Homo sapiens: one gene and its partner. The protein of the gene in region 1 binds, or shares a complex with, the protein of each later gene. Each region holds a gene or a part of one and is shown on either strand. Other genes may lie near its edges.

Region 1 (3,749 bases):
AATTACAGAGAAAAACAAAGTGGGAGTTAAGTAGCGGAACCAGTAGGTTTTAGAACACAAACTCTCTCTAATGAGGTTATATTTCTTAACAGAATTTTTAAATTATTATTCTGAGAATTCAAGAGAAAGCCTAACTGGGAAGAAGAGAAATAAACTGGACCTTAATGAGTACAACTTTTATAAACAAGAAAAGGGGATGAACCTCCTTAATGTTACAGGAACAGCTTGGTTATGATGTCACCAATTGTTTCAAAGAAGCATGACAACATGACAACCTAACCTCAAGAAGCCAAGGTGCTCCCTGAGGCCAACCACCTCTCCTCCATGAAGCATTCCTTAACGTAGAAATCCTGCTTAAATTCCCCCCAATCCATTCTGAATTAAGTGTTCTCATCTGTGTATCCCTCCCATAGCGTTTTCTCAGTACCTTTTGTAGCATTTTTCATACTCTAATAATCTGTAACTCGTATAATCTTCTCCTTTTAGACCACCCTCAAATATCTTACTTTCAGTCCTCAAAGCTTAGAACAGTACTCTAAGCACTAACTTAATGGTGGTTGAGGAAATGATAAACAACTATTAAAGAAATGAATGAATAATAAATAGGCCTATTCATGTACTTTATATTTGCAAAAATCTCTCTCAATCTAAAGTCATTTCTTAGGTGACAATGGTCCACATGCAATACCATCCACTGCAATATTTATTTAAAAGGGCCTCCATTCTAAAGTAACCACCAGAAAATTCACATGTTCTAGACGGACTGAGGTCACAGGTTCCAAATGGAGAACAGGGTGTTAGCTGCCCTCACTCTAGTTAAAGCATACTGATGTTCTATAATAATCTACTGGGGTGCCAATGACAATCACCAACATATTAAGCACTACATGTTCTGCACTTCGTAAAGCATAGTTCTTTATTCTTCTCCTGCATTAGTTCATTTTTGTTTATATTTTTAGTTTATGTGATGCTTGGTGATGCCTATAGTTATCTACTGCATGAAGAGGGATGTGCTCCTCCTAAAAATAATTCTAACTCCTGTTAACTCCTACAGAACATTCATACAGACATTTTTATTTCATTTTTTAATATCAAAAAGTCCTTTCCTATACACTCTTTCCTCTAGTACTGCCGTTTATTTACATTTCAAAATACATTTATATCAAGCATTACCAGCCAAGAACTAAGTATAAACTTCAAGATCCATCTGATCGACTCATTCTTTGGGCCTTTTTAACATGTGTCTTTTCTACCGTCTCCTAAGTTTCCACTTTGAAATTCGTTGAAAAATAAATTAGCGCAAACTGATTCTGCACTAGGTATGTATGGACATACACAAAAGGTTTACCATGTAAATCTAACACAGGTACACGTCCGTTGAATGTATTAAGTCAATCTGTGTTTTACAAATAAGCAACGTTTCATGGACATTTCTCAAAGGGGATCTGGGAGAGAGGAGCTAGAAGCAGGCACGTTAGTGCCCAACATGGGAGGAAACAATGGAAGAGGTGATAATGCTTACGTGCCTAAATATCACCGGATCTCAACCTCACCAATATCCTACCCATATGACGCTATGCAGCACCTCCCCCTCCCCAAATAAAATCAACCCCAGAGGGCAGAAATCATGACTTAAAAACGACGGCATTTGAAAGCACTAGAAGGCCTGTTATATTCCCCAACTGGGGCTCTCCCAATCCCGACAGGGCAACACTGACGAGAAACTCACAGATTGAAGTGGATGCCAACGGGCTAGGATCCCAGCTGTAGCCGGGAAAAGAACGTCCCGGCATGACCCTGCCACCTACCTTCATCGTAGTTATAGCCTCGAACATTCCGATGCCGGGCCATGACGGCGGAGAGGGCGTTTGCCACAGCCCCTTAACTCCTTCCAAAACACTCCGCTTAGATACTGATAAGGCGCCAACTGCAGCCTGGAGAACCCCTATGCGCCATCTTGGCTTCCCGCAGGCCTCTGCGCCGAGCGCCTGCGCAAGCGCGACGTCTTAGCTGTGCACCGCGCGACGGCAATGCCTCAGGGTCACTGTCCGCCTCCCTGAGGGCGCATGCGCACTGCTGTGCATGGCGGGACGAGGGGAGGGAGCGTTTGGGAGTGGCCCCACCCAAAGGTTGGGCGACGGAGGGGGATGGGGAAATCCGCCGCCTAGAATTGACTGGTTTGGACTAAATGTTGCAAGCGGGGAACCTTGAGCTACCTACGCCAGCGTTCTGGATTATTTTCCAAATTTGGTTCCTGATAATCTGAGAAAGCTATGCGCTCAGTAAGAGCAGGGACCTTGTTTTATCAAACTTTGATCTTTCATTAAGCACACAGTGGGCATTCAACAAACTTGTGTAAACTTGGAATCAGATTTAGCCCAGGCCGGTGCGGTGGCTCCTTCCTGTAATCCCAGCACTTTGGGAAGCCTAGGAGGGCGGATCGCTTGAACTCAGGTGTTCGAGACCAGCCTGAGCAACATAGCGAGGCTCCGTCTCTACAAAAAATACAAACACTAGCCGGCCCTGTGGTGCAGACCTGTAGTCCCAGCTACTGAAGAGGCTGAGGTGGGAGGATCCCCTGAGCCCAGGCGGTCGAGGCTGCAGTGAGCTGAGATCGGGCCTCTCCATTCCAGCCCGGGCGACAAAGTGAGTGAGACCTTATCTCAAAAAAAAAAAGAGTCCAAGCTTTAGAGAAGGAAATAAGGCTATTTTTAAACGGGTATATATTATTAAATTGAGACCCTGGCTATATTAGGTCACCCTGCATTCATATAATTTACGACTTCATGTATTCACTCCGTTCGGCATTACTATCCCTAGTAAACAGCGATTTGCCCTTAGCTATGTAAACGATTTTAGCTATATAGACGATATTTATCAGCATCATAAAGAAGGATTCACTGAACATTCATTGAAGACATAATTGTGTGTAACATTGCGAGTATTAAATATAGCTTTTTAGACATAGCACTGGCCTTAGGTGGTAATGCTGAATGTTGTTGATGCATGAATCTATAACCTGCTATTAAATGTCCTCATTTCTCAGAACATAAAGTTAATAATGCTATATAAGAAACCAACCTCATTATACTGAACACCACTTCAGTTTTAGCTTGTGTTTTTGAAATGATGATACTTCACATCAAAGGCAAATGTTGAGTTCTAGAGATAATTAAAAGCTTCCTCAGCTTTTTGCTATGCACAATAGAAAGAAATAAGAGTAATCCAAATTTAGTTTATATTTGTAAGTGGCTTGGAACGTAATTTATTCATGCATTTGAATGTGTTTGACTACAAAAATAGTTGTTTAATGTGGCTCCAAAATAAAAGTTTACAGAAAAATAGAGATAGTTGCTAATGTTACATGGCTTAAGTGTTTTTATTATTTTACACCCTTAGGTAATTTTTATTTTGCAGCCTGTTTCTTTGTAAAAAGGAGATAGAGACACTAACTCGCGAGCTGTGAATAATGTATCCGTATAAGAGGATTTATCACAGATCATAGTAGGTGCTTAAAAATATTGTGTTATTGGCCGGGCGCGGTGGCTGACTCCTGTGATCCCAACACTTTGGGAGGCTGAAGCAGGCGGATCATGAGGTCAAGAGATCAAGACCATTCTGGCCAACATGGTGAAACTCCCTGTCTACTAAAAATACAAAAATTAGCTAGGCATGGTGGCGCGTGCCTATAGTCCTAGCTACTCGGGAGGCTGAGGCAGGAGAATCGCTTGAACCCGGGAGGCAGAGGT
Region 2 (3,749 bases), on another chromosome or scaffold:
AAAACCTTTTGTTAAGATCCCACTGTGTGCTTACCACTGTGATTCTGTGGCTTTTAATCTTTGGCAGACTATGGGAAAGATAAATTGTACTTAGAAAGATGATCAAGGAGCACTTCAAAGCCCCAGTTCAAAATTATCTCCTCATTCTCTCTCTCTTTCTCTCTCACAAATACACACACAAGCACACTTTCACCCTACCAATTAGGAATTTTAAGTTAACAAGATACTTTTTTTAAAATACAGTGTCCTTTGGATAGGCAAATCACCTTCACACTTGAGTGTGATTAGTTCTTTGCTTAGTGAAAAGTTGCTGGGTTCTCCTGGAATTGGAAGAAGGCAATGTGAATTAGGAACTTCTTGAGGGTACTCAGTATGATAGGAAGGTGGGAAGAAGGAGGAAGTAAGGGGAGACATAGAGAGCGAGAAACAAAGAGAAAAGAGGCCACAAATATTAATAAGTAGTGGTTCTTATTTGGACTTTCCCCTTGGAGGGGACCTTTCCGTCCCCTGATAATCTCTTAGGAAGATAATGACACTTAAGTTTAAATTGTGAAGCCTGTCAGTTGAGAAAAATGTTGAGACAAGTCTCAATCATTTTAGGACGTTTATTTGCCAAAATTAAGGACGTGCGCGGGGAAGACAGGTCTATGCCTTTCTGGGAAGATGATTTTGAGGGCTCCAAATTTAAAGGGGAAAGGGTGGGATACTGAGAAATACAGTTTTCATGTGAGAGGGTAGCAGGGGGAAAATAGTCATTCATGCCTCTGTCTGGCTTAGTCAATCTGAATCTGCATTTTTACGTAAGATAACATAGACAAATGGGGCAGGGGAACAATCAGATATGCATTTGTGTCAGGAGGGCAGAGGGGTGACTGTACCTGAAAACAGAAGCTATCTATTTACATTGCCATGGTAAATTTTCATAGAAACACTTTATGGTAAAGATCTTGGCGCTCACTGAGAATTTCCTTGTGGGCAAAATATGAGCGAGGTGTGTAGCTTTTCATCTGGTAGCCATCTCATTTAAAAACCAAGAGGCAAGGCAGTTTTGCGTGACCCAGTTCCCAGCTTAACTTTTCCCTTTGGCTTAATGAGTTTGGGGATCCGAGATTTATTTTCCTTCCACACGCCTATGCCAAACTCAGATTCCTTCCTTTCATCCCTGTTTCATCTGTTCAGGCTGGTTAGTTCCCCTTTCCAATCCACACAGAGAAAGACAGAAAAGACAGTGAGAAGCTATGTGTGCAGGACTTCTCTGCCCTCCACTCCATCTAAGCTCTCAAGAAACTTTTAGATTCTTTTGTTTTTTCTATTCATCGGTCTCTTAAAGAGGCAATCCCACTTCTCCATTTCCACTTCCTAATAAAGAATGCTAAGTAACTTAAGGATTTTCTTTAAATTATGTAGCTATTCAATCAGGGTCAGTCCTAGTTAATAGTTTTTCCCCACTTCCCATAGCCTCGGCTTTTAGCTTAGCTTTGGCAGTGAAGATCTGGCCCTAAGCTCTTGCGACCCAACCCCCAACCTAAACATTTCACAGGCTACTGGGCTGCGGAAAGCTGAGGCTGCCAACTTTGGAGCCTAGGATTCCCAGGACATCAGGTCAAGCAACTGAGAGGTCCACCCAGGGGTAAATTCCACACATAGTTTCTTCTCTCTTGGGACCAGCGCTTTAACATCTGGGTGAATCAGATCGTGCAGACACGGTAACTAGGCGCAGAAAACAGCTGGACACGTTGCTGGGAGCCCAGACAGAACGTGACCAGTAGTTCTCAGAAACCGCTTCTAAATACCAGCTCCAACAGGCTTGTAGCGTCCGAGTGCGGATAAGGCAAGAGCAAAAACGAGCATAGTTTGGGCCGTTGGGGCCAAATCTGCACTTCTGAGAGCTACTTTTACTGCTAAGCTTTGAAATTGGATTTACCCAGAGGGAAGCGTTGCAGTGGCAGCCGCAGGCAGGTAAAACTAGTATTTGCACTCACACACTCCCCGGATTCTTCACAGACAGGGATGGAAGAGAAAACTTAGGAAGTTGAAGTTTGGCATTAAAATAAAGGACTCGCCACCACTCTGTGCACCTTCTTGAGGGAGTTCATTCGTCCGGAGCGCCTCACAGCTTAGTGCGCCTGCGCACGCGCGAACTGCGGCCCCGCCTCTCCTTTGGGGACGGGAGACGTGCGTCGGGTCGCGGGACGGGGGCTGCGCATGCGCCTTCATTTCGTCAGCCCGCTGTTGCGTGCTGCCAGCGGGAACTGTGTAGGGGTAGATTTTCGCTGCAGTGTTCCCCGAGCCTGTTAGACGCAGCGCGCCGGGAGACTGAGAGAGGAAAGGATAGAGGAAGTGCTGCCCTAGGCTGCATGAGTCGAAGCAAGCGTGTTTCCTTCCCGCCAGGCAAGTGCCCTTAGAAACCGGGCCCCGCCCCCTTCCTGGCCTGCATTCCCATCCCCTCTCCCGGGGCGGAGGTGAGGACCTCCTTGGTTCCTTTGGTTCTGTCAGTGAGCCCCTTCCTTGGCCATGAAGCTCGTGAGGAAGAACATCGAGAAGGACAATGCGGGCCAGGTGACCCTGGTCCCCGAGGAGCCTGAGGACATGTGGCACACTTACAACCTCGTGCAGGTGGGCGACAGCCTGCGCGCCTCCACCATCCGCAAGGTACAGACAGAGTCCTCCACGGGCAGCGTGGGCAGCAACCGGGTCCGCACTACCCTCACTCTCTGCGTGGAGGCCATCGACTTCGACTCTCAAGCCTGCCAGCTGCGGGTTAAGGGGACCAACATCCAAGAGAATGAGTATGTCAAGATGGGGGCTTACCACACCATCGAGCTGGAGCCCAACCGCCAGTTCACCCTGGCCAAGAAGCAGTGGGATAGTGTGGTACTGGAGCGCATCGAGCAGGCCTGTGACCCAGCCTGGAGCGCTGATGTGGCGGCTGTGGTCATGCAGGAAGGCCTCGCCCATATCTGCTTAGTCACTCCCAGCATGACCCTCACTCGGGCCAAGGTGGAGGTGAACATCCCTAGGAAAAGGAAAGGCAATTGCTCTCAGCATGACCGGGCCTTGGAGCGGTTCTATGAACAGGTGGTCCAGGCTATCCAGCGCCACATACACTTTGATGTTGTAAAGTGCATCCTGGTGGCCAGCCCAGGATTTGTGAGGGAGCAGTTCTGCGACTACCTGTTTCAACAAGCAGTGAAGACCGACAACAAACTGCTCCTGGAAAACCGGTCCAAATTTCTTCAGGTAAAACAATCTTACCCAGGGATAATTAAGAATGGGCAGAGGGATTGGTATAAACTACTCCTAAAGTTTTAGAACTGGGAAAAATAAGAAGAGAAAGTCTTTACTTAGCTGGGATTTTCATGAGATAATGAAATAAAAAGAGAATGTTAAATGTCTAGCAAATTTATGGAGTAAACTTCGCTGAAACATATGAAGCCTTACTAGCGCTTTTGGCTTTAAGCCTTTGTGAGCTGATTAATGGGTGTTCTAGGAGATTATTTTGCCTAACTTTTGTAATTGTGATTCTAGGTACATGCCTCCTCCGGACACAAGTACTCCCTGAAAGAGGCCCTTTGTGACCCTACTGTGGCTAGCCGCCTTTCAGACACTAAAGCTGCTGGGGAAGTCAAAGCCTTGGATGACTTCTATAAAATGTTACAGCATGAACCGGATCGAGCTTTCTATGGACTCAAGCAGGTGGAGAAGGCCAATGAAGCCATGGCAATTGACACATTGCTCATCAGCGATGA

What was found. The genes of interacting proteins can lie anywhere in the genome.
Region 2: HBS1L (region 1) and PELO share a complex: the UniProt entries of both Homo sapiens proteins name them as parts of the pelota-HBS1L complex.

The regions. Positions count from the first base shown.
Region 1 is NC_000006.12:135,052,841-135,056,589, forward strand, and holds the start of HBS1L (HBS1-like protein), read right to left. Parts: upstream 1,983-3,749; 5' UTR 1,852-1,982; coding exon 1,809-1,851; intron 1-1,808. UniProt on the Homo sapiens protein: GTPase component of the Pelota-HBS1L complex, a complex that recognizes stalled ribosomes and triggers the No-Go Decay (NGD) pathway.
Region 2 is NC_000005.10:52,797,881-52,801,629, forward strand, and holds part of PELO (protein pelota homolog), read left to right. Parts: intron 1-1,924; exon of another isoform or gene 1,925-2,004; 5' UTR 2,005-2,514; coding exon 2,515-3,240; intron 3,241-3,528; coding exon 3,529-3,749. UniProt on the Homo sapiens protein: Component of the Pelota-HBS1L complex, a complex that recognizes stalled ribosomes and triggers the No-Go Decay (NGD) pathway.